7 linked regions of the Homo sapiens genome follow. The protein of the gene in region 1 interacts with the protein of each later gene in a biochemical or structural test. Each region holds a gene or a part of one and is shown in the gene's direction. Other genes may lie near its edges.

Evidence for each region.
Region 2: of the proteins of TRIM55 (region 1) and OTUB2, one has a biochemical effect on the other in vitro, tested with the Homo sapiens proteins (one large-scale study listed by BioGRID).
Region 3: of the proteins of TRIM55 (region 1) and ATXN3L, one has a biochemical effect on the other in vitro, tested with the Homo sapiens proteins (one large-scale study listed by BioGRID).
Region 4: of the proteins of TRIM55 (region 1) and USP5, one has a biochemical effect on the other in vitro, tested with the Homo sapiens proteins (one large-scale study listed by BioGRID).
Region 5: of the proteins of TRIM55 (region 1) and ESPL1, one has a biochemical effect on the other in vitro, tested with the Homo sapiens proteins (one large-scale study listed by BioGRID).
Region 6: of the proteins of TRIM55 (region 1) and STAM, one has a biochemical effect on the other in vitro, tested with the Homo sapiens proteins (one large-scale study listed by BioGRID).
Region 7: of the proteins of TRIM55 (region 1) and USP8, one has a biochemical effect on the other in vitro, tested with the Homo sapiens proteins (one large-scale study listed by BioGRID).

What each region holds. Positions count from the first base shown.
Region 1 is NC_000008.11:66,144,129-66,147,628, forward strand, and holds part of TRIM55 (tripartite motif-containing protein 55), read left to right. Parts: intron 1-3,500. UniProt on the Homo sapiens protein: E3 ubiquitin ligase that plays an important role in regulating cardiac development and contractility, muscle growth, metabolism, and fiber-type differentiation.
Region 2 is NC_000014.9:94,025,148-94,029,139, forward strand, and holds the start of OTUB2 (ubiquitin thioesterase OTUB2), read left to right. Parts: upstream 1-1,192; 5' UTR 1,193-1,390; coding exon 1,391-1,393; intron 1,394-3,992. UniProt on the Homo sapiens protein: Hydrolase that can remove conjugated ubiquitin from proteins in vitro and may therefore play an important regulatory role at the level of protein turnover by preventing degradation.
Region 3 is NC_000023.11:13,318,147-13,321,259, reverse strand, and holds ATXN3L (ataxin-3-like protein), read left to right. Parts: upstream 1-1,206; 5' UTR 1,207-1,325; coding exon 1,326-2,393; 3' UTR 2,394-2,613; downstream 2,614-3,113. UniProt on the Homo sapiens protein: Deubiquitinating enzyme that cleaves both 'Lys-48'-linked and 'Lys-63'-linked poly-ubiquitin chains (in vitro). Acts as a deubiquitinating enzyme for the transcription factor KLF5, playing a role in the regulation of KLF5 stability.
Region 4 is NC_000012.12:6,858,650-6,862,149, forward strand, and holds part of USP5 (ubiquitin carboxyl-terminal hydrolase 5), read left to right. Parts: intron 1-820; coding exon 821-892; intron 893-1,501; coding exon 1,502-1,589; intron 1,590-1,716; coding exon 1,717-1,842; intron 1,843-2,303; coding exon 2,304-2,457; intron 2,458-2,793; coding exon 2,794-2,968; intron 2,969-3,500. UniProt on the Homo sapiens protein: Deubiquitinating enzyme that participates in a wide range of cellular processes by specifically cleaving isopeptide bonds between ubiquitin and substrate proteins or ubiquitin itself.
Region 5 is NC_000012.12:53,288,799-53,292,298, forward strand, and holds part of ESPL1 (separin), read left to right. Parts: intron 1-291; coding exon 292-505; intron 506-605; coding exon 606-796; intron 797-1,286; coding exon 1,287-1,414; intron 1,415-1,548; coding exon 1,549-1,671; intron 1,672-2,042; coding exon 2,043-2,198; intron 2,199-2,891; coding exon 2,892-3,062; intron 3,063-3,185; coding exon 3,186-3,290; intron 3,291-3,479; coding exon 3,480-3,500. UniProt on the Homo sapiens protein: Caspase-like protease, which plays a central role in the chromosome segregation by cleaving the SCC1/RAD21 subunit of the cohesin complex at the onset of anaphase. During most of the cell cycle, it is inactivated by different mechanisms.
Region 6 is NC_000010.11:17,703,151-17,706,650, forward strand, and holds part of STAM (signal transducing adapter molecule 1), read left to right. Parts: intron 1-1,280; coding exon 1,281-1,368; intron 1,369-1,819; coding exon 1,820-1,874; intron 1,875-2,437; coding exon 2,438-2,591; intron 2,592-3,500. UniProt on the Homo sapiens protein: Involved in intracellular signal transduction mediated by cytokines and growth factors. Upon IL-2 and GM-CSL stimulation, it plays a role in signaling leading to DNA synthesis and MYC induction. May also play a role in T-cell development.
Region 7 is NC_000015.10:50,511,405-50,514,921, forward strand, and holds the end of USP8 (ubiquitin carboxyl-terminal hydrolase 8), read left to right. Parts: 3' UTR 1-3,017; downstream 3,018-3,517. UniProt on the Homo sapiens protein: Hydrolase that can remove conjugated ubiquitin from proteins and therefore plays an important regulatory role at the level of protein turnover by preventing degradation. Converts both 'Lys-48' an 'Lys-63'-linked ubiquitin chains.

The sequences.
Region 1 (3,500 bases):
GCAACAGTTCAACAATGGCTTTAGGTCAATGTTAAATGTTACCTACTCACTTCTAAGGAAACAACCAAATGACCATTTGATTTTTTTTCTTTACATCCAGAAATGTTGGCATTGGTTAGAAACAAATATCCCACCCATCATCATCTTACCATTTCAATATGGGAGGGATGATCTTCACTTTATAAAATCATCCCTTTTTGGTATATTGCATCCACACTGCATTCTCCCTAGAAATGGGATGAATTTTATTTTCATTAAAATATTATAGACAACTTTAATTTGGTTCTCCCAAGAAGCCAAGAAATATAACTGTCCTAGCAGACCCAGGAGGAAGGCTGTGCAGCAGCCAGAGGCTTTGCATCAGAGTATACCCGGAGACCAATACCTACTTCATTTATGGTGGAGGTATACTTCACTTGCTAAGCACACTCACACAGGTGCACACACAGAGGATGTAGGAAGCACAGACATCAAAAGGAAGAAAATGGAGACTATTTGAAAAGATAAACTCGAAAGCTCAAAAAGTGTATATCTTGATTGAATTACTGTCCAGAGAAGAGGGGAGGTGTATGGCTCCGAATTGGTCTTAAAGATACATACCTTTTTACTCAAGTAAATGAAAAAGTATGCTAAAAGCAAGGAGCAGTCTTTGAGATGAGGAAGTTTTTGTGGAGAAGAGACAAATATGGTTGCTATCATGCTTTTGTAGGTAACAACAGTCCTTTAAAGTGTTCTGTCTGCAGACGTTTTCACAATGCAAAAGTCCACATTTTTTCCTATTCCATTTTTCAGGCTGCTAGAAAGTCACTGCTGAAAGTGTTGCAGATTCACATTAACAAAGGCACAGTAGGTACTGAAATTCAGAGTCATCACTGTCAGTAGCTAGGTGGCCTCTGAGAACATTTTTTTTTCATGGCACATATCTGTTCCCTCATCAGCTTAGAGGGCAAATTGATAACCTGAGGTGTTTATTGTTCCCTGACTTTCACAGCACTTTGATGGTCTTGAAGCCAAGAAAGATTAGGGGACATCTAAGTTAGTCTCTTGTGTGTGGGTTCTACCTCAAAGAGTGTGAAAAAATAGGAGACTTCATTTCATGGAGTATTTCACATTTGAATATGACATTAGGTTAACCTGAACATTTTGAGTTAATTTCTAAAAGTCTGTAAGTTCCAATTTCGTAATTCCAAAGAAGAGGCATGTATTTTTGCCGTTTCAGAAACAGATTTATCTAACTCTTACCATTTTTTGCATAGAATTATATTAAAAGCTAATTAAACAAGAGAAAAAAGTTTTTTCCATTAGGAATTAGAAAATATAATGATTTTATATTTATCATTTATGATACTTTTTTTTGTTCATTATTCTCCAAAACAATGGAAAATTATGGCAGGTTATTAGATCATACAATGCCAGGTACAAAGTCAGTGGTTGGTGAATTTTGTTGAAAGAACTAGGAATATAATTCTGAAACAATTTAAGATGCCTTGCCTTTAAAAAATCTACCTTAAGCATAGTGAATTTGGGTTTTGTTTTTTTTTTCTCTTTTGGAGGTGGAGTCTCACTCTGTCACCCAGGCTGGAGGGCAATGGCGCGATCTTGGCACACTGCAGCCTCCACCTCCAGCCTTGGCCTCCCAAAGTGCTAGGATTACAGGTGTGAGCCACTGCACCTGGCCAGTACATTTGTTAAAAGGCATATATTCCATTTACAAGCACTTCATATAATTTTTTAAAGTTACTTAAAATATGGGCCCAGCTGGGTGTGGTGAGAGTAGCAATGACCCAGGAGTTCAAAGACCTTGACTGTAGGCCAGGCACCAATAATAAATGGTCGGATGGCCTTGAGAAAGTGACAGCTCTGCTGGGTTTCAGTTTCCACATGAGTGACATGATTGATTTGGAGCAGGTTACTTCTAATATTCCATGCAGCTTCAAAATTCCACAACTGAATAATTCAGGTTAAGGAATTTGTACCTAAATTTAATAGACACTGATCCAGTACCAATATATGCCAGGTAATATTATAAGCACTTTACAAAGTATTTAATGATATAATAATTTTAATAAAGCATAGACCGCATATGGGGTAGCATTTCCTGCACTATGAAGTATAAACAAATGATAGTAGTTTTACTAACATTCAATATAAGTTATTTAAAAAAACAGAATAGAAATAAAATAATGCTTGGAATTGCAAGTAATATAGGAATGAAATTAGTTATTCCATTTAAACTGCCAAAAAAAATTATATGGTCAAAATAAGTGATTTAATCTTTATTTGACTTGAGAGAGTACACTAGATTACACATGCTTCACATCTGTCTCATTGTAAATGACTTGGCTGCCATAAACTTGAATGTTCTCACATATTAAATCACATAGGAGAAAATTTTTGTGAATCAAAGACTTTCTACCTGTATTACATCTTAATATAATACTCATATTATAAATGTTTCAAGTGCACAACTCATTTGGGAGAAACAAGCTGGAAACCATTATATGATCACAGTAGAGCTTCTAAATATCAGAGAGGCTTATTTCATGTGTACAGTGGGCACCTGGTTGCCTGAAGGTTGGAACAAAAGATAATACAGTGAAAGAGAGTTTGATTGGAAAGCTACTAATAGGTTTCAGTTTCTAGGCCTGGTTGAACAGTCCGACTCTCAAGCTAAAGGGCTGGAAATGAGTGGAAATTTGTCAAGCCAGGCAATTTCCACATCTTGACATGCTGCATGGGCCCTTGTTCCATTACTTTCACAACTGCTAGGACTTCAAGCATTTTCATCCCCTCCTCAACCTCCTTTACTCCTATTCCTCCTTAAGGTCAAGTTCAAGTACTAATTCCTCTGAGAAACTCTTCCTGAGTCAACATTTCTGGCTCCCCTCAAAGTTCCTCCACCTACACAAAGGGTTGGACAAAGATTCCATAAATGCTTCTAAAGCATCTGGTATAAATCTCTAAAATATTTACATTATTCAGCCTACCATATTGAATTACATTATTGGTCTATAGTCTTTCTCAGTGAACTGTGAGCTCCTTGAGAATAGGAACTATGTTAATTCTTTTTTGGATCCCCAGAGTCTTGACACAAATGACATGCATTGTTTGTTAAATCCATGAATGAATGGGTGGATGACAGTGGTAAGGCATTTACTATTAAAATAGTTGGCACCACTGGATCTCCATGCATTATAATTTGGTTGGGAACTGTGATGAGAATTGACTGTTCCAAGGAAGGCAATGGAGTAAGGGATGTATTTCTTGCACATTTGCAGAGTATCTTCATAATCAACAATTTGGTTTAGGTCATTCTCCCTGACTCCATACTGAGAATAGTAGAGAAATTGAGAGGAAATGAAACACATTAAAAAAAAAATCTATTCCGCCAGGATTGGTGGCTCACGCCTGTAATCCCAGCACTTTGGGAGGCCGAGGCGGGTGGATCATGAGGTCAGGAGTTTGAGATCAGCCTGACCAATATGGTGAAACTCCTTCTT
Region 2 (3,992 bases), on another chromosome or scaffold:
CCCCCGAAAACAAATGGGGGTCAGGGGCGGAGGCAGGTAACACAGCCCCTGTAGTCACATGCAGAGTGAATTCGAAACCAGCTCTGGAGTCACACTGCCTGGGACTGAATCCCACTTCAGTGCTATGTGACTAAGGCAAGGAACGTAAACTCTCTGTACATGTTTCCTCATCTGTGAAACAGGGATAATAATAACAGGACCTACCCCCTTAAACCAGTTGTGAGGAAATTAAGTAAGATAATTCTGTATATGTGGAGAGTTCAGGATAGCGCCTGATACATAGTAGGTGTTCTGCATAACTGTGTAAATAACTGTAAAAAATTACCTGCTATTGTTACTGCTCCTTGAGCCTCCATTGACCTCACACTCCCTGCCCAGGACATGATACATGCTTGGAAGACTCAGATGTCTGTATGCCCAGAGCCTAGCCCAGTACCTGGGACTTACGTAGTAAGAGTGGGGCGCGGGGGGCGGGGGCGGGGGGCAGCAGCAGGAAGGGGAATTGCTCAATACACGCTCCTGGAAATATTAATTTTTTGAAGTGGATGCATGCAATGCACTGAGCCCCCCTCCCCTACAAACTCTCCCTCCCACACCCAAGCAGCTCCTCCAGGACTCAAGGGCTGGTGAATGAATCTTTGAATGATAAATATTCCTATTTTGATGTCCATTAATAATGAGCTTGTAGGCAAGATGAGTCATCTAGACCTGGTTCACGGATATCCCTACAATTCCAGAGCCACAGAGTCAACGATCCTGGACATTCATTCATTCAACAAACATTAACTGGGTGCGTGGCAACCTACTGATTCATGAGTTGGAAGAGGATAAAATATTATATAGAAGCCATACTTAATGTTATTGGACACGTGTTCCCTAAGCGCCTATCCTCTGATCTTGTGCAAACTATACTTATGTGACCTTGTTTATGAATTAATGACGGCCAGCTAATCCTTCAGAAGACTCCAATTTTAGGTTTGCGCAAAAGCCCTTCAGCCTTTACAAACGAGGACCTGTCTTTCTGGGTTGAGCTAACTCCTCTGCTAGTTAAAAGCTTTCCTGTGTCTTTAAAAGGGGGAGGCATCCTATCAAATGGACCCTAACGCATAGGCTGAAGGCACGTGAAGTCCCACCCACTTTCTATGACGTCCCGCGTCCCGGCTTCTGATTGCCCGCCTGAGACGTCAATCGCAGGGCGTGTGTCTTGCTGGGACACAGTGGAGGTCTAACCTTTGGTTTGCGGAGCGGTCGGGTGTATTCTCCGCCGCCCCCACGCCCTCGAGGTCCCCGCCACCGAACCAGCGGCGGAGCCCGCCCGCGCCTCCCGCGGCATTCCCGCACCGGATCGCTCCTCGCTGGGGCGGGACCTGGCCTGGCGGCTCTGGTCACTATGGTCAGTGATCGTGGGGGATCGCGAAGGGGGAGCGGGCAGGGGGCGCGGTGGGCGGGGTCGCTGCCGGAGCGGGTGCACCCGCGGGACGGGGGTCGGACGCGAGGCTCAGCCCCCAGCTCGCCCCCGCCGCTTTCCGACCCCCTGAAATACGGAGTCCGGACGGATACTGAGGGCCAAGTCGCGCCCCCCTGTACCCCGTGGATGTGCAGCTGAGGAGGTCCAGCTCGGCCCCGAGCCCCCGCCCCCAGCGTGTCCGCCCCAGGTGGCCCGGGGCGCCGCCTCGACGGCGCTGGGTGGGCGCCCTCGACGGAAGCAGGGACAGGGAGGCTGCAGCACTACGGGTCGCCTCCTCTTTGTTAAGTAGCCCCCCAGTCAGCAGTCCACGGCCCCACCCACCCGACGGCTCGGCCGTCAAAGACCTCCTGGCCCCTGCCCCAACCCCAAGGGAGGATCTAGGGGTTGCACGGGGCACCAGGTCGTCTGCTCCGTGGGCGACTAGACCGTCTCCATCTTTGGAGTCAGGACCCACCTAGAGAGGATGCCTCAAGTTGTGAGGCGCATGAGTTAGGGGTCGGGGAAAAGAAAATACTCAGGAATCCCTGATGGAGAGCCTTGTCTGCGCAGAACGAGGCCCAGAGACCCTCTGAGCCAGGCTAACCCTGGGCTTGGGCAGGTGGGGAAACTGAGGCCAGACAGGGCAGGGCTGGTACTGATTGTGGTGGACCTGGGGCTTGAACCCAGGCTCTGGACTCTCAGTTCAGTGCTCTTTGTGTTACATCGGCTCACCTTCCAGGTTGCCGTGGGGTCAGGCATCCTGCAGGGGACTGGGTGGCATGGCTGCCTAAGACCCTTCAACCCTGAGCAGGGGGAGCCTGTGGAGTGAGGGCTGGGTGGCTTGAGTCGGGGCCACACAGCCCCAGGTTCAAGTCTCACTTCCACCTGTTGGAAAGCGAAGAGGCTTTGGTTGGTCCGCTCTCCCCCTCAGCACCGTTTTGCACATCTGTGTCATGGGAACCATGTGATATGATTAGCTGGAGCTTTTCCTGTGACAACAGAGTCCTGGAAATGGGTGTGCACAGATGCCTGGTTCTTCAAGCTTAGCCTCCTCTCTCCTATGACTGGGCAGGAAAATGGGTCACCACGGCAGCATGCTGCCGGGCTGGGGCATGGGTCAAAGCCTGGTCATGGCCTGGCACGATCTGGGTGTGGCATAGGCAGCCAGGGCACTCGAGCTGGGACTGTCCTTGCCAAGCCAGCCTGCTGCCTGGGGCATAGCTGGGGGCCTCTGGAGCATCTGGAAGCACCAGCTTCCTGCTTCCACTTGGTGCCCAAGGGTTTACCTGGTTGAGCTGCTCCTGGAAGGCAGCCCAGGTGTTTCTGCATCACCCACCAGGGAGTGGTGGAGCTGGGGTAATGATGGGCTTAGCCACCCGGGAGCTGGAGGCTGGCATGCCCTCTGGCCACCACTCGGCAGCTGAGAGCACAGCAGAGGCGGTAGCTGCTCTTTGTGCCATGCAGTGAGGCCGCTCACTCTGCTCCCTATCTGCCCTGACTCAGGAGACTGGAAGTTAGATGGCAGATGGGGTCCAAAGCCCTCACCCCTCACCGGGGGCTTGGGTGCCTTGGCGAAGGATGAAGTGGTTAACCCACTAAAATATGACGTCTGTCTGGTAATCACAGGGGTGGAGGCCATGCAGGGTCTTTTCCCTTCCCTGCACATGGCATTTATTGAGCACCTACTGCATGCGGGGACCATACTGGGCCCTGTGCTGCATGGTGGGTTTTTATGTTGAACTTGCATTGTGTGGATGGTGGTGACAGAAGGAATATCCTTGGAAAATACAGCATCTTCTTTACTTTCCTGTTTCTACATCACTGGGCTAAGCTTGAGGAAGGGCGCCCCGTGGAAGACACAAAGACACTTGGGAAGGTAGGGGTGAGACAAGGACCAGACCTCTGGCAGGGACTGCAAATAGCTAGGGTTCTCGTGCACTCAAGGTGCATTTCATGTTTGACGAATGAATGAGTCAGACATAAGCAGGAAAACCGCAGGGTCCTATTGTGCTTTGTTCTGTTATTTGTCAAACAGGCCCCCAGTGGGCACCTTTGTCAGGCCTGTGCTGGGCACTGTGACACTGATGAGAAAGACAAGGTGCCTGCCCGCTGTAGGAGCTCACTGCCTGCTGGCCAAGACAGCTGGACACAAGCAGTGTCTGAGCTACAGGTCATGCCTAAGAGGCCTAAGGACATTGGGAACACAGTGAGAGGTCAATATGCTCTGAGGGAGTGGGGGTGTTGGAAGGTTCTGCAGAGGAGGTCTTTTGAGCTGAGTTGAAGGATGTATATGAGTGTTCAAGAAGGATTTGGGAAGGGCACATTCCTTTTGGCGGGTGCGGGGGGACAGTGGGCTATCAGGCCTTGAAGCATGGTCAAGAATAGGGGATTTTGGCAAAGGTGAACAGCCTCTGAAGATGCAAGGAGATTGAGGGAGGCAGGGAAATTGAGTCTAGAAAATTTGGTGGGGTCAGGATGTTCTGTGCAGGGCCTCACTTGCTGTGCTGTGGGGTTTGGGTTTTATTCCACCAATGAGGGGGAAACC
Region 3 (3,113 bases), on another chromosome or scaffold:
ATGGTCTGTACTGTGTTTAAGGTCCACATAATCACTTAGCTAGATTCCATGAAATTCCTACAAAAATGACTAATATGAGTTTCACCATTATCTCTTGATAGGAGCTTGCAAAACCATATGGCAGCAGTAGTGGTTAGGGATACATCTTCTATACGCACCTCAAAAAATCCCATGGTGACTAGTATTGTTAGGGGAACCATGAACTCTACCTGAATCTTAAGGTTCTGAGGCCAATGTTGTAGTTAGAGACACCATCATCTCTTGACTACCTGCTGAGAAAACATATGGTGGCAACCCTGGTCAGGATACATGTCCTTCCATCTGGACCCCTGATAATTCCATGCATACACTCACTATAATCATTAGGGCAACCACTAAGTGTACTTGGACACTCAAGAGAAGTCCAAGGTCAACATAGTAGTTTCACACACTGTCTGTTCACTGGACTCCTGCAAAAATCCCATAGTTACTACTGTGGTGAGGAACTCTGTGATATCTTACCCGGATACCTGCTAATATCTTTGTCACTACTAAGTTTGAGAAAGATTGTCTCTGAACTAGAAAACAGTAAAATCTAATGGTTACTACTTTTGTTAGGCACATACATTTCTTACCTGAACACCTGTAAAAACACATGGATAAGAAAAGAGTTCAGGACATCATCATCAGTTTTCTAGATGTCTGAAGATCATTTGGTCACTCATGTTTTTCAGGTCCACATAATCTCTAACTAGGATACCAGCAAAGTCCCATCTTCATTGCCACTGTGAGTTTTATTGTCATCTATTGACTGGAACCTACAAAATTCTATGGCTATTATTGTGGTCAGTGACATCATGATAACTTAGCCAGACAGTTCCAAAATCCCATGGTGTCCATTCGGTTAAAGCCCATGTTATTTCTCTCCCAGTTACCTGCCAAATCTTCTGTTTAGTGCTGTGGTAAATTTCACCTTTATTTACTTACTAAAACCATGCTGACAAGCATAATTAGAGAGACATTATTTTTATAGGACATCTGAAATTCCAACGGGCACTACTATGGTGCAAGTCACCATTATCATCTATGGGATAACTCCAAAATCCCATATTCACTTTAGGTTTACCATCAGCTTTTGACTGGATACTGGCAAAACCACCTTGGTCACAATAGTGCTTTGTGACATACCATCTCTTACCTGAATACCTGCAAAAACCCATGGTCTTCATAAGGTTTGAAAACCTAACATCTGTTACATGGCTATCCACAAACTGCCCAGGTAACTGCCATAGCTGGGCATACAACATCTTCCGGCATACCTACAGAAACTCACGGATACAATTAACATGGATTTCATCTTTCATGAGAAACAGGAAGGTTTCCTGTGTGCTCAGCACTGTCTGAACAATCTATTGCAAGGAGAATATTTTAGCCCTGTGGAATTAGCCTCAATTGCACATCAGCTAGATGAAGAAGAGAGGATGAGAATGGCAGAAGGAGGAGTCACCAGTGAAGAGTATCTTGCATTTTTACAGCAGCCTTCAGAAAACATGGATGATACCGGTTTCTTCTCCATTCAGGTAATAAGCAATGCCTTGAAGTTCTGGGGTTTAGAGATCATCCATTTCAATAATCCTGAATATCAGAAGCTCGGCATTGATCCTATAAATGAAAGATCTTTTATATGTAATTATAAACAACACTGGTTTACTATTAGAAAATTTGGAAAACACTGGTTTAACTTGAATTCTCTCTTGGCGGGTCCAGAATTAATATCAGATACATGCCTTGCAAATTTCTTGGCTCGATTACAACAACAAGCATATTCTGTATTTGTTGTCAAGGGTGATCTGCCAGACTGTGAAGCTGACCAACTCCTGCAGATCATCAGTGTCGAAGAGATGGATACACCAAAACTTAATGGAAAAAAATTAGTAAAACAAAAAGAGCATAGAGTCTATAAAACAGTCCTTGAAAAAGTATCAGAAGAAAGTGATGAGTCTGGAACATCAGACCAAGATGAGGAGGATTTTCAGAGGGCCCTTGAACTAAGCCGCCAAGAAACCAATAGAGAAGATGAACATCTCCGCAGTACTATTGAGTTAAGCATGCAAGGTAGTTCCGGAAACACATCGCAAGATCTTCCAAAGACATCATGTGTAACTCCTGCTTCAGAACAGCCGAAGAAAATAAAAGAAGACTATTTTGAAAAGCATCAGCAGGAACAGAAGCAGCAGCAACAACAGTCAGATCTGCCGGGCCACAGTTCATACCTACACGAAAGGCCAACAACAAGTTCGAGAGCAATTGAGAGTGATCTCAGTGATGACATCAGTGAAGGCACAGTACAGGCCGCTGTCGACACCATTTTAGAAATTATGAGAAAGAATTTGAAAATCAAAGGGGAAAAATAATGCCTTTAAAAATAATTTAGATAGTCATACTTTCCAACATTATCCTGTGTGATTATACTGTAGGATCCATTTTGGTCATCTGTCAAAGAGATGAGGAAATAAGGCTTTTAGACAGTTTGCAAACAAAATGACGAGAGAGATGTGGGACTAAATAATGATCGTTCAACTACTAGCCAAGGAGACATTCAGCAATTAATTAAATTTAAATTAGCTTTCAAAATGTTCCTTTGATTTTTGAGCCTGCAATATCTAATGTGTCTAAAATTGGGTCATTTTTCATGGATCTTTTTGTATACCAACGAATTAGCTCTTGCCATAGAACTTTTTCCATATAGTCTCTTCTATTGTAGATAATGTGGCTCATTTTGGTTGCTTTTATTTCTCATGAAACAATTTAACCTTTCAGGGAAGTGTCTCTTGTCTGTGTTGATCATAGTAACGGTTTTAGAAGGATAAACAGTTCTCCCTCCAACTATGTACTGTGCGCTTAAGTATATTCTTATGTTATTTCCTCTGATCACAATTTCTGCTACCTGGTCCTTAATTATTTTCCACAAGTCTTTCGAAATATGGTAATATTTTCTGAGGTTTTGTTTTTTACGCCCTCTGTGGTAAGATCATTATTTCATGACTCTGGTGCATTACTCTTTCTTTGTTTGGGGGTGGGGTGATGGGGGCAAAGACGCTCTGTCGCCCAGTCTGGACTGCAGTGGCCCAACC
Region 4 (3,500 bases), on another chromosome or scaffold:
TCCTGGTCAGCACCCTCTGGGCATACTCCTCCTTCAGCTTCCCTCAGCACCTCTGTGTTTGATTCTAGTCTTAGAGTAGTTCCTATCGGCTGGGTGTGTTGGCCCACACCCGTAATCCCAGTACTTCGGGAGGCCAAGATGGGAGAATTGCTTGAGCCCAGGAGGTTGAGACCAGCCTGGGCAACATAGCGAGACCCTGTCTTCTCTTAAAAAAAAAAAAGAATAATTCCTGTCACACTCTGGCTGACATGCTGTGAGGGGAGCAAGTTAGGGAGCTGCACCACCAGCACCCCAACACACAAACCCCACTGATAGTGCAGAGTGCCAAGTCCCAGGGCTCTGTGGCCTTCTGACAGACTCAAGGGTTAGCAGGTGGTCTTTATTTTAGGGCAGTGACATCAGATGAGCACCTAACATGGACATGTAGCACTTGGGGAGGAGGGGGGCTTGGCACACTAAGAATAAAGGCAGGTTCTCAGCAGAAATGAGTTTACTTTCGAATTTGGGGAACAATTAGAATGTGAATGCTCAGAACATGTCAACAGGTTCTGTCCAATAGAACGTGAACTGCACTTATCCTAATCCCAGGCTACCTTCCCCCTCCCCGGCTCCTCTGCCGCCGAGCGTGCTTGCACATTGGACATAGCTGAGAAGGGGAGAACAGGCAGGTTGCTGGAGAGAAGCGACTCCAAGGTTCACCCACAGCAACTCCCCACTCTTGAGGGGAGCCCGTTCACAGAGTTAGTAAATGTTTGCTTCCTTCCCTTTTCCTCGGCGCTCAGGCCAGAGCCCCTCCAACTGTCCTTCCCTTGACTTTTAGGTATGTGGATAAGCTGGAGAAGATCTTCCAGAATGCCCCGACGGACCCTACCCAGGATTTCAGCACCCAGGTGTATGTAACCAGGTCCTATGTAGGAAAGCTGTTGACAGTCATGGCCGTATACCTTCCTCCTCCCTGACCGCCTGGGGGGCACAGCACTTTAACCCCTGGCCTTTTTTTGTTTTGTTTTGTTTTGTTTTTTGAGACGGAGTCTTGTTCTGTTGCCAGGCTGGAGTGCAGTGGCGCGATCTCGGCTCACTACAACCTCTGCCTCCTGGGTTCAAGTGATTCTCCTGCCTCAGTCTCCTGAGTAGCTAGGACTACAGGCACATGCCACCACGCCCAGCTAAATTTTTTTTGTATTTTTAGTAGAGACGGGGTTTCATCATGTTGGCCAGGATGGTCTCGATCTCCTGACCTCGTGGTCTGCCCACCTCGGCCTCCCAAAGTGCTGGGATTACAGGCGTGAGCCACCGTGCACGGCCACCACTGGCCTATTAGGAGCATTCGGGTGACTGTCTTCTGGACGTGTTGTCTGTCTTGAGCTGGGTTCCTGTAGAATCTAAGGTTTTTCACGTTGTTGAGAGTTAGCTAGGGAGAGCCACGAGCAGGGGGTTGAGCTGGGGACACACAGGGTCGTTAGTTGACTGAAGTGAAATGTTTTCTTGGATATTAATGCAGGGCCAAGCTGGGCCATGGCCTTCTCTCCGGGGAGTATTCCAAGCCAGTACCGGAGTCGGGCGATGGGGAGCGGGTGCCAGAACAGAAGGTGCGTCTAGGACCCTGTCCCTTTCAGGCCCTGGGATTGTGGGGAAGCTGAGGTCTGGGAGATGTCTAAAGAAGGCCCCTGGATGGCCACTGAGCCCCAGCTGAGTCCCTGCCCTGACTCTTCCCAGGAAGTTCAAGATGGCATTGCCCCTCGGATGTTCAAGGCCCTCATCGGCAAGGGCCACCCTGAATTCTCCACCAACCGGCAGCAGGATGCCCAGGAGTTCTTCCTTCACCTTATCAACATGGTGGAGGTAAGGGCTGGCAAGATGGCACACCCCCATCTTCCTGCAATTTACTCGCTCTCCTTCCTGCCCATTTCTCCCTCTATCAGCCCCAACCCAGTCCCATCCCTGAACCCCAACAGTCTGTGTCCCTGTGAACAGTGCTTGCACCTGAGGAGGACAGTGAAGGTGATGATCCCTACCCTTGATGGGCTTGAAGCCCAATTCAGATTATGCCCAAAGACAATGATAAGAGAATACTTGCTGCTTATAAAGAAAAATACAAGCGTGTTCTAACACAGTCCCTCAGTGCAGGGATGGGGCCAGAAATGGGGAGGGGTTGGTGAATTAGGGAAGGTTTCTGCTCTGCTCTTGTGTCCCTGAGTTCCGAGTGGTAGTCTGCCTTCTCTCCCTGACTCTCCCATGAACCTTTCAGGCCCCATTCTGTTCCCTGGCTGCCCAGACCTCCCTACCCTGCCTCTTTCCCATAGAGGAATTGCCGGAGCTCTGAAAATCCTAATGAAGTGTTCCGCTTCTTGGTGGAGGAAAAGATCAAGTGCCTGGCCACAGAGAAGGTGAAGTACACCCAGCGAGTTGACTACATCATGCAGCTGCCTGTGCCCATGGATGCAGCCCTTAACAAAGGTAGGCTGCTCCATCAGCAAGGCCGTGGCACGGTGGGAGGCTAAGGTCTAGGAGGAATGCTTGGGCACCTCATGGGAGCACAGCCCAGGGAATGCCCTGCTTCACCAGCCAAGGTTCCAGTCTGGGCCACCAGGAGTAGGTAGATTAACCTCGTCCAGTGGACACTCAGCTTGTTAGCAGAGCTGCATGGAAACAGGCGAGATATATTGGACATGTGTCAGGGGTGCTTTGGAAGGGTAGAGGAACTGAAATACGGACACAGAGCCAGTAGGGAGAGGCTAAGGAGGCAAAGAAGCAGCACCCTCCGAAGGATCCACCAACCCATTCTGTCACCAGAGGAGCTTCTGGAGTACGAGGAGAAGAAGCGGCAAGCCGAAGAGGAGAAGATGGCACTGCCAGAACTGGTTCGGGCCCAGGTGCCCTTCAGCTCTTGCCTGGAGGCCTACGGGGCCCCTGAGCAGGTCGATGACTTCTGGAGCACGGCCCTGCAGGCCAAGTCAGTAGCTGTCAAGTAAGTCCTCTGGTCGGGGCCTGAGGCTGTGGGTCTATGGCAGAGCTATCCCAGAGGATACTTCTGTCTCTTCCCTGTTCTTTCATCCCTTTGTGGTTGGAACCTCAGGGTTGAATCAGTTGGGCTGGTAATCTGGCCCTGATGGAACCAAGGGGCCCTGGTAGGGGGGACACGGGTACTGACTCTATCTGTCACCTTGTCCTGCCCCAACCACTCCCTCTTCTGTGGCACAGGGTCTCTTTGTAGTGTAGCCTCTCTTCATTGCCCCTCAGTCATGGCTGAGCACAGGCACTTAGGATCAGCTGTGGGCAGAATTTGGATTTCCAGCAAATAGCCACACTTTGAGCCTAGCCATTGGCACCTGGCATGGGTGTGAGACCTGAAAAAGGGCTTTGGTCTCGGGGAGTCAGCTACCCAGCCCTTTGCTGCTCCTGCCAGTGAAACAGCTCTTCCTCTCTGTGTGGGTTTTTTTTTTTTTTCTATGTGTGGGTCTTGCTATGTTTTTTTCCCTACGTGTGGGTCTTGCTATGTT
Region 5 (3,500 bases), on another chromosome or scaffold:
GTAGCCTCTGAACCTGTGTTTGAACCCCAGCACTCTGTCTATGAGCTGTGTGCAGGTCACTTAACCTCTCCAAGCTTCTATTCCTTCTGTAAAAATGGGGTTTAGGGAGCATGGTGGAATAAGTTGATGCCTGTTAGTTGCATGGCACCCCACTTGGCACATTGCCCTTCATAAATGGTAGTTGCTGTTTGCCATGTGGGAGATGAGATAGGGACTGTTCCTTCTTGGAAAGTTCCTATCAACTATGAAATAAGGAATTCAGCTGTACCAAGTGTCCTGACGTTCTTCTAGGTCTTTCTACCCTGGACTCCATCTGTGACTCCCTGAGTGTTGCTTTCCGGGGCATTAGTCACTGTCCTCCTAGTGGGCTCTATGCCCACCTCTGCCGCTTCCTGGCCTTGTGCCTGGGCCACCGGGATCCTTATGCCACTGCTTTCCTTGTCACCGAGTCTGTCTCCATCACCTGTCGCCACCAGCTGCTCACCCACCTCCACAGACAGCTCAGGTGGGTGCTGACCATCCCCAAGACTCCTGCTGGGGCAGACTAGAGAGAAGGTCCAGACTTTGAAGGAATGGGACCTCACCCCTCCCCGTGTTGCTTGCAGCAAGGCCCAGAAGCACCGAGGATCACTTGAAATAGCAGACCAGCTGCAGGGGCTGAGCCTTCAGGAGATGCCTGGAGATGTCCCCCTGGCCCGCATCCAGCGCCTCTTTTCCTTCAGGGCTTTGGAATCTGGCCACTTCCCCCAGCCTGAAAAGGAGAGTTTCCAGGAGCGCCTGGCTCTGATCCCCAGTGGTATGCGGGCAGCCTTCTGGCCGGCTCCTCTGTCCTCTTCTGCATCTTCTTACTTGGGAGCTGGGTGAAGGAGTTTTAGGCATTGGTTAGTTTACATAGATTTATGACCCTTATGTCATACCTTTTCACCTGTTAGCATCTTACATCAGGAAGGTTTGTTGTTTTTTTTAAACCTCAACTTTGAATTACCAGCAAATTCAGTGTCTTTCCTCAGAGGTGAGTTCAGATGACTGGGGTCTTCTGTGCTAACATGAAACATATTCACATGATTTGAGTGCCTCACTTTGTTAGTTGCTGTGAGGGACACAAAGTACAAGTCATGGTCTCTGTGCACAGGGAGCTATTAGAGCAAGGGAGAGCACCTTGACCTCTAGTGACCAGGGAAGGCTTCTTGATGCTGGCTTGAGTGATGGATAGGAATTGAGTGCCCAAGACAGGGAAGGGAATTCCTTTAACAGCTGAATGAGTCTGGCTGTATCCTGTGTGTCAGGGGTGACTGTGTGTGTGTTGGCCCTGGCCACCCTCCAGCCCGGAACCGTGGGCAACACCCTCCTGCTGACCCGGCTGGAAAAGGACAGTCCCCCAGTCAGTGTGCAGATTCCCACTGGCCAGAACAAGGTAGGATTCCTGGGCCATGGAGCAAAGTTGGGCTGGATTGGGCTTCGGGTCAAGCTGCTCACATTCTGTGTTGAGGGAGGGAGAGATGGTGATCACGTGGACAAGCAGAGCTCTCACAGCCCCATCTCCCAAAGCTTCATCTGCGTTCAGTCCTGAATGAGTTTGATGCCATCCAGAAGGCACAGAAAGAGAACAGCAGCTGTACTGACAAGCGAGAATGGTGGACAGGGCGGCTGGCACTGGACCACAGGATGGAGGTGTGTGCTTCTGGGGTGGGGTCAGGCCTGCTCTAGGAATGACCCGGGGGGTCCCAGTGACTTCTCTACCAGACGGCCTGGGTCAGTGCTAAAGCCACTTCAAATCCCTTCTGGAAGTGTAGACCTAAATTTAAAAATATGTCACCTGGGGAGAACTTCAGAGCCCAGAACTTGAAGAATATATGGGAATGGATATTTAAAGATACGCAGAAAAAAAACGACTTAAACCCAACTATCAGCTTCCCAGCAGAAAGATACGTAAGACAGACATGCACATTGGAAAACGCATTTTCTCATCTCCAAAATGTCAGTGCCTGTGAGAAAGAAGCTTGGTTTCCTCTCTGACTGAAGGGTCTGCCCTCTGCATTCAGGTTCTCATCGCTTCCCTAGAGAAGTCTGTGCTGGGCTGCTGGAAGGGGCTGCTGCTGCCGTCCAGTGAGGAGCCCGGCCCTGCCCAGGAGGCCTCCCGCCTACAGGAGCTGCTACAGGACTGTGGCTGGAAATATCCTGACCGCACTCTGCTGAAAGTGAGTGAGGAAAGCAGGGAAGGGGGCCAGGCCCAGTGGCTTGCACCTGTAATCCCAGCACTTTGGGAGGCCAAGGCAGATGGATTGCTTGAGCTCAGGAGCTCGAGACCAGCCTGGCCAACATGGTGAAACCCTGTCTCTACGAAAATACAAAAATTAGCTGGGCATGGTGGCAGGCACCTGTAATTCCAGCTTCTCGGGAGGCTGTAGCAGGAGAATTGCTTGAACCTGGGAGGCGGAGGTTGCAGTGAGCTGAGATCGCCGCACTCCAGCCTGGGTGACAGAGTGAGACTCCATCTCAAAAAAAAAAAAAAGGATAGGCCCCTTGGCTTACGCCTATAATCCCAGCACTTTGGGAGGCCGAGGCAGGTGGGTCACAAGGTCAAGAGGTGAAGACCATCCTGGCCAACAGGGTGAAACCCCATCTCTACTAAAAATACAAAAATTAGCTGGGCTTGGTGGCACATGCCTGTAGTCCGAGCTACTCAGGAGGCTGAGGCAGGAGAATCGCTTGAACCTGGGAGGTGGAGGTTGCAGTGAGCTGAGATTGCGCCACTGCACTCCAGCCTGGGCGACAGAGCAAGACTCTGTCAAAAAAAAAAGAAAACAGGGAAAGGGAAGAAACTGGACTTAATCCTTTCCCAGCAGCTATCATGAATGAAGATGGTGCTCACCACCACTGTTTCCCTGCAGATCATGCTCAGTGGTGCCGGTGCCCTCACCCCTCAGGACATTCAGGCCCTGGCCTACGGGCTGTGCCCAACCCAGCCAGAGCGAGCCCAGGAGCTCCTGAATGAGGCAGTAGGACGTCTACAGGGCCTGACAGTACCAAGCAATAGCCACCTTGTCTTGGTCCTAGACAAGGTAAGGAGCTGGGGCAGAGGGGCAGTGTCTAGTGGGGAGTGAATACCAACTCATCCCCATGCCCCTTCTGACTTCTGCATATACCTGGCTGGGGACAGTAACCTCTTAGTGCTTTTTGCCCAGGACTTGCAGAAGCTGCCGTGGGAAAGCATGCCCAGCCTCCAAGCACTGCCTGTCACCCGGCTGCCCTCCTTCCGCTTCCTACTCAGCTACTCCATCATCAAAGAGGTGGGGTTCAGGGCGTAGTGTCTGGGGATGACTGGCGACTGGGGAAGACGTCAACAAAGAAGGGCAGAGAAACCTGAGAAGATAGGAGAGGGTCCTAGGAATGGCTCAGACATGGAAAGGGGCTGAGATTGTTAGAGCTTGGGCCTCTTGGTGAGACAAGCATCCTAATCGCCAGTGTCTCCTCCTCAGTATGGGGCCTCGCCAGTGCTG
Region 6 (3,500 bases), on another chromosome or scaffold:
GAAACCATCTGTGTGTTAATGGACTCTCACTTTCATTTGACCTTTTTTTGTGTGTGGTAGGCAAACTTTCTTGACATGTGCTTTTGTTTTTTAAGACTGCTTAAAATGAAAATTGTGAATAATTTACATTGAAAATTGGTATCCATTTCAAAAAAACAGAATTATTTTGACTTGGGAAGAGTTTTTTTTTTTTTTAGCATACTTATGTCACTTTCACTCTCTGATGATTAATTCGTTTCTCAAGCTATTTTCCTTTTACACAGAACATAGTTTTTAAATTTTAAATAATTACTTTGCTTAGGATTAGTAGTCTTTATTTGCCCTGCGTACCTATATATAGTAGCATAACCATGTAAAAACCATGCATGGAGAAAGGTTTGTAATTATTTTAGTAGTGGTCATGGTAAAGTAGATCTGTTTGGATTTTTTAAAAAACATAAATACATATATACTTATATATCGTATAGATGTGTGTATGTAATAATGGTTTCATTCATTCCATTGGTCTGTACAACAAAAGATTCTGAAATAGATCTGTGTCACTGGTTTGAGGTACCTTCCAGCCTCTCCCAAATAGGAAAATAGAGAAACCACTAGTCTTCCTCCTTCCTTTTATGACCAACTGAAACACTGGTAGAAAGAAAATGTGGAATAAACCCTAAGAGTCCCACTTAGAAGAGCAGCTGTGATACAGCTGAGCTCTGCCTTACTGAAACAGCTGCTGTATTCACCATGGGCAAGTAGGAATGACAAGTTGTTAGTCATAAGCAATGCCATCTTGAGATGGATAGTACACTTGTTGGCATGGCTAAGCTAAAGCTGCTCCGAAACAAAGCAAAATCCTCTGGCATGACATAAGAGGTGGAAGAACTCACGCATTGTAAGTTTAAATGTGGCTTGATTTCTTCTCGCTTAAGAGAATCTCTGTTAGCAGTTGGTTGGTTGGTTTATTTATTTATTTAAACAGGGTCTTGCACTGTTGTCCAGACTGAAGTGCAGTGGCGAGATCATAGCTCACTGCAGCCTTGACCTCCTGGGCTCAAGTGATTCTCCCACCTCAGCCTCCTGAGCAGTTTCAAAAATATATAGGAAGTACTTTCAAGGCTCTGACTTCATGCAGTACTAGAGAGAATAAATACATGGGACACTGACAACATAAAAGCAAAATTGGAGTCTCCATAACTATGAATTTCAAAAGTTTGTCTAGTTGATAATAAAGTGAAAACATAAAGTTGCCTAAAGGTTGGTAGCTTTTTATATTAACTACTTAATTCCTGTAGGATAAAATGGACCAGTTGCTACAGATGCTGCAAAGTACAGACCCCAGTGATGATCAGCCAGACCTACCAGAGCTGCTTCATCTTGAAGGTAAAACTTTTCTATTTACCTTGCAAATAAAGAGTAGTTAGAGGTTAATAACTGGTGTCCTGTTAAAGAATGGGTTTTGAGGATAATATTAAAAATGGAACATTTCTCACTTCTCCTTGACCCAGGCTCACTCTCATATGCAGTTGAAACCTTGGGTAGAATTTGAATTCTTATAATTTTCTATCCAAACGAAGTGTTCTGTTCAACATTTTAGAACCTGGTAAAATGAAAAATGGCACTTTAAGATTTTCAGATTAATATTTTAGATTAAGTTGTCACCATTATACTTTAAGAAAATCAATTTTGGGTTCTGTAGACTAAGGTTAAAGAATGTATATTTTTATTACTCCAAATTAAATCTTTTATTCCTTAAATTATACAAATATCTATCAAAGGTTCACATTTTTTTTTCTTGTACTTTCTTATATTTCTTCACATCTTGTCATTTTAGCAATGTGTCACCAGATGGGACCTCTCATTGATGAAAAGCTGGAAGATATTGATAGGTAAAAGAACATGGGTGCATTTATGTTGTGTACCTTCTTTCCTGAAGCTATCACTGTACTGCAAAGTGGGCTATAACTGCCTTTTAAAAAAAAAATATTGTGGAGGAACCAACTCTCATTCACATATCTTGTGCTAGATGTGGAGAATTAGACTCATTTGTCCTTTTTTTTAAAGTGAGGATTTGATCGACCTTTGCAATATAGTCAAAAGGACCAGCGTAGATAGGTCGTTTTAAAAACAAGGGCTAGCTATGTAATTCTCTTTGCTGAAGTGGCATTACCAGAGCTCACAAATGACCCATATGTTAGTAACTAGGGAAACCAAGATATTTCTGGTACAGTCAGGTACGATAAGACGGAGTTCCCTTAGCACAGCACGTAAACCTTAAACAGTTTGGGTTGCTTCAGGGCTAAAATGCAGGATATTTTTGTTATAAGTGAAATTTTTAATAATGTCTACTAGTACTACTTTTTGCCATTTTTGATATTTTGATGTATCATTATTTAGAGCATTATATCATTTTAGTAACAGCTATGCTTCAAATTATTGTGTCATGTTTCAGAAAACATTCAGAACTCTCAGAACTTAATGTGAAAGTGATGGAGGCCCTTTCCTTATATACCAAGTTAATGAACGAAGATCCGATGTATTCCATGTATGCAAAGTTACAGAATCAGCCATATTATATGCAGTCATCTGGTGTTTCTGGTTCTCAGGTAAGCTTTTAGAAGCCCATGTTGTTTTAAATTCTCAAATGCACAGTGAGGTGTGGTAGCTCATGCCTGTAATCTCAGCAATTTGGGAGGCCAAGGCAAGAGGATTGCTTGAGACCAGGAGTTTAAGACCAGCCTGGGTAACATAGTGAGACTCTGTCTCTACCAAAAAAAAAAAAAAAAATTAGCCAGGCTGGGGCATGTTCCTTGGTCCCTGCTCTCGAAAAGCTGAGGTGGGAGGATAGCTTGAGCCCAGAAGGTCGAGGCTGCAGTGAGCCGTGTTCACACCACTGCAGTCTAGCCTGGGCAACAGCGACACCCTGTCTCTAAAATAAATAAATAAATAAATAAATTCTCAAATGCATTTGAGATTATTTGGAATAGCTGTTTGAAACTTTCTAAAACTAATGTTTAAAATTAAAATAAAGTTTAACGGAATTTTTTTACTTGGCAGTTACAGCATATAATATACTAATTATGCTAATAGTTTTTTGTTGTTGTTGTTGTTTAAAGGAAATAGCTTTTATACAGGGTTATGCAGCAGAATCAGCCATCACACTTTTGAAAAAAATTACAGATATATCCATCCCACTCCAGACCTATTGAATCAGAATCCTCAGGGTTGAGGCCCTTTTTTTTTTTTTTTTTTTTTTTTTTTGAGGCGGAGTCTCACTCCGTGGCCCAGGCTGGAGTGCAGTGCTGCAATCTCAGCTCACTGCAAGCTCCGCCTTCCGGGTTCTCGCCATTCTCCTGCCTCAGCCTCCTGAGTAGCTGGGACTACAGGCGCCCGTCACCACGCCAGGCTAATTTTTTTGTATTTTTAGTAGAGACGGGGTTTCGCCGTGTTAGCCAGGTTGGCCTTGATCTCCTGACCTCGTGATCCACCCGCCTCGGCCTCCCAAAGTGCTGGGA
Region 7 (3,517 bases), on another chromosome or scaffold:
AGAAATTTCACACTTAGGTATATACCCAACAGAAATGAAAACATGTTTACAGAAAATCCTGTACATAAATGTTCATAGCAGCATTACTGATGACAGCCAAAAGTGGAAACAAGCCAAATGTCCATCACTGGATGGATTAAGGAAATGTGGTATATCCTATACAATGGAATATTATTTGGCAATAAAAAGGAATGAAGTACAGATACATGCTATGACATGAATGAAACTTGAAAACATTATGCTGAATAAAAGAAAATAAAAACAGAAGGTCATATATTCTATGATTCTGTTTATTAAAATACCCAGAATAGGCCAGGCACTGTGGCTCACGCCTGTAATCCCAGCACCTGGGGGAGCCGAGGCAGGTGGATCACTTGACGTCTGGAGTTTGAGACCAGCCTGGGCAATATAGCAAAACCCCATCTCAACCAAAATACACAAAAATTATTGGGGCATGGTGGTGCACACCTGTGGTCCCAGCTACTCGAGGGAGGGAGGAGGGAAGATCACTTGAGCCAGGGAGGTTGAGGCTGCAGTGAGCTGAGATTGCACCATTGCACTCCAGCCTGAGCAAGAGTGAGATATTGTCTCAAAAAATAAAATAAATAAAATTTTAAAAATACGCAGAATAGGCACATCTATAGAAATATATAAAGTAGAGGCCAGGAGAAGTGGTTCATGCCTGTAATCCGAGCACTTTGGGAGGCCAAGGTGGGTGCGCCACTTGAGGTCAGGAGTTCAAGACCAGCCTGGTCAACATGGTGAAACCCCACCTCTACTAAAAATACAAAAATACACCTGTAGTCCCAGCTACTCGGGAGGCTGAGTTACGAGAATCCCTTGAACCTGGGAGGCGGAAGTTGCAGTGAGCTGAAATCATGCCACTGCACTCCAGCCTGGGCAACAGAGCAAGACTCTGTTAAAAAAAAAAAAAATAGCGAGAGATCGAGAGAGAGTGCACGTGAGAAGACTAGTAGTTGCTATGGACTGGGGGAGAAGGAACGGGTTACAGGGTTTCTTTTGGGGATAACGAAAATGTTCTAAAACTGGACTGTGGTGATAACTGCACAACTCTGTGAATGTACTAAAAACTACTGAACTGGCCAGGCACAGTGGCTCACACCTGTAATCCCAGCACTTTGGGAGGCCCTGAGATGGGCAGATCACTTGAGGTCAGGAGTTCCAGACCAGTCTGGCCAACATGGTGAAACCACATCTCTACTAAAAATATTTTTAAAAATTAGCCAGGCATGGTGGTGCACCTGTAATCCCAGCTACTTGGGAGGCTGGGGCATGAGAATCATTTGAAACCAGGGGGTGGAGGTTGCAGTGAGCCGAGATCACACCACCGCACTCCAGCCTGGGCGACAGAGCCAGACTCTGTCTCAAAAACAAACAAAACAAAAACAACAAAAAACACAACTGAACACATTTAAGGTGAATTCTGTGGTATGTGAACTATCTCTAAGAACTTCTTTTTATTTAAGTTGGGAAACAAAAAGATCATGTACAACAAACCAAAAACAAAAAAGTTATTTCTAACCCATGTAACATATAACAAGGATCTAGAACATGTAAATGACTCTTTCCAATCAATAAGAAGAAAAATAACCCAGTTTGTAAAAAATGTGCAAAAGACAAATATTTCATACAATAGGAAAAACTAAAATGAGATAATTTTGTATCCATTAGATGGCAAAAATTAAGAAGTCTGATGATCCTGGTAGGGGTATGTATTGGTATAATCACTTGTAGAAAGTTAAATATGCACATACTTTATGATCTAAGTGACCTCACTCCTAAGTATATACATGAGAGAAACTCTTATGCACATATATATGCAGGAATGTCTGCATAATGTTGTTCATGCCAGCAAAAATTTGGAAACAATGAAATATCAATAGGAAAATGGATAATTTATGATATATTCACACAATATACATCATAGGCTAGTGAAATTATAACCACATGCAACAATATGGATATATCTTTAAAATATTTAATGAAAAAGTATGCTTGGCGCGGTAGCTCACACCTGTAATCCCAGCACTTTGGGAGGATGAGGGAGGTGGATCACCTGAGGTCATGAGTTCGAGACAAGAGCGAAACTGTCTAAAAAAAAAAAAAAAAAAAAGAGTGAAGAATCAAGCCACAGAAGGTAATTTAAAAATGTACACTCAAGATTTAAAAAGAACTACAATTCCATAAGAAAAAGGCAGGCCACAGAATAGGAAAAAGAATAAAAGACTTGTTTAGGCATTTCACAAAAGAAAGTATACAAATTTAAGTAGTTATTTAAACCACAATGCCATTCTACTATATGGGCAACCAGAAGGGCCAAAACAAAACGAACAAAAGACTACCAAGTGTTAACAAGGATTTAAGGCAACTGAAACTTCCAGTCATTGCTGGTGGGGGTATGAATTGGTACAGTCGCTTTGGAAAGCTACTGAGCAGTATGTACTAAAGCCAGACATATGCGTATTTCTGAACCAGGAGTTTCACTCCTAGGTATGTACTCAAAAGAACTGTGTACACTATGTTCACCAAAAAACAAGAATGTTTATAGCAACCCTCTTTGCATTAGTCAAAAGCTAGTAATTACCCAAAAGTTCCTGAATGGTAGAATGAATTACTAAATTGTAGTATTTTCATACAATGGAATACTATACAGCAATGAGAATGAATAAATTACAATATAAACAACAATATGGATGAACATTACATAATTTTGAATGAAAGGAGCCAGACACAAAAAAAGGATATACTGTACAATTCCATTTATACGAAGCATAAAATCAGGCAAAAATCTATAAATCTGTCCTGCCAGAAGTCAGTGGTTTTCCAGACTCGAAGGCAGGTACAAGCACAGTTAGGGTGCTGGTAACATTCTGTTTAAACTCTGTTCTGCTGGTTACATGGGTATGTTCACTTGAAAATCCATCAAGTTTTATCCTCATGGTTTGTGTACTTTTCTGTATATATGTTTCACTTCAATAAAGTTTATTTTTGGTCAAGGGCAGTGTCTCATACCTGTATTCCCAGCACTTTGAGAGGCCGAGGCAGCCCGACTGCTTAAGCCCAGGAGTTCCACAGCAGCCTGAGGAACATGGAGAAACCCTTCTCTACAATTTTTTTTCTTTTTGAGATGGGAGTCTCGCTGTGTCACCAGGCTGGAGTGCAGCGGCGCGATCTCGGCTCACTGCAACCTCCGCCTCCTGGGTTCAAGTGATTCTTCCTCAGCCTCCCAAGTAGCTGGGATTACAGGCGCATGCCACCACACCCAGCTAATTTTTTTTATTTTTAGTAGAGATGGGGTTTCACCATGTTGGCCAGGATGGTCTCCATCTCCTGACTTCGTGATCTGCTTGCCTCAGCCTCCCAAAGTGCTGGGATTACAGGCGTGAGCCACCACCCCTGGCCTACAAATTTTTTTAAAAAATTAGCTGGGCATGATGGCACTTGCCTGTCGTCCCAACCACTCAGGAGGCTGAGATGCGAGAATCACTTGAGCTCA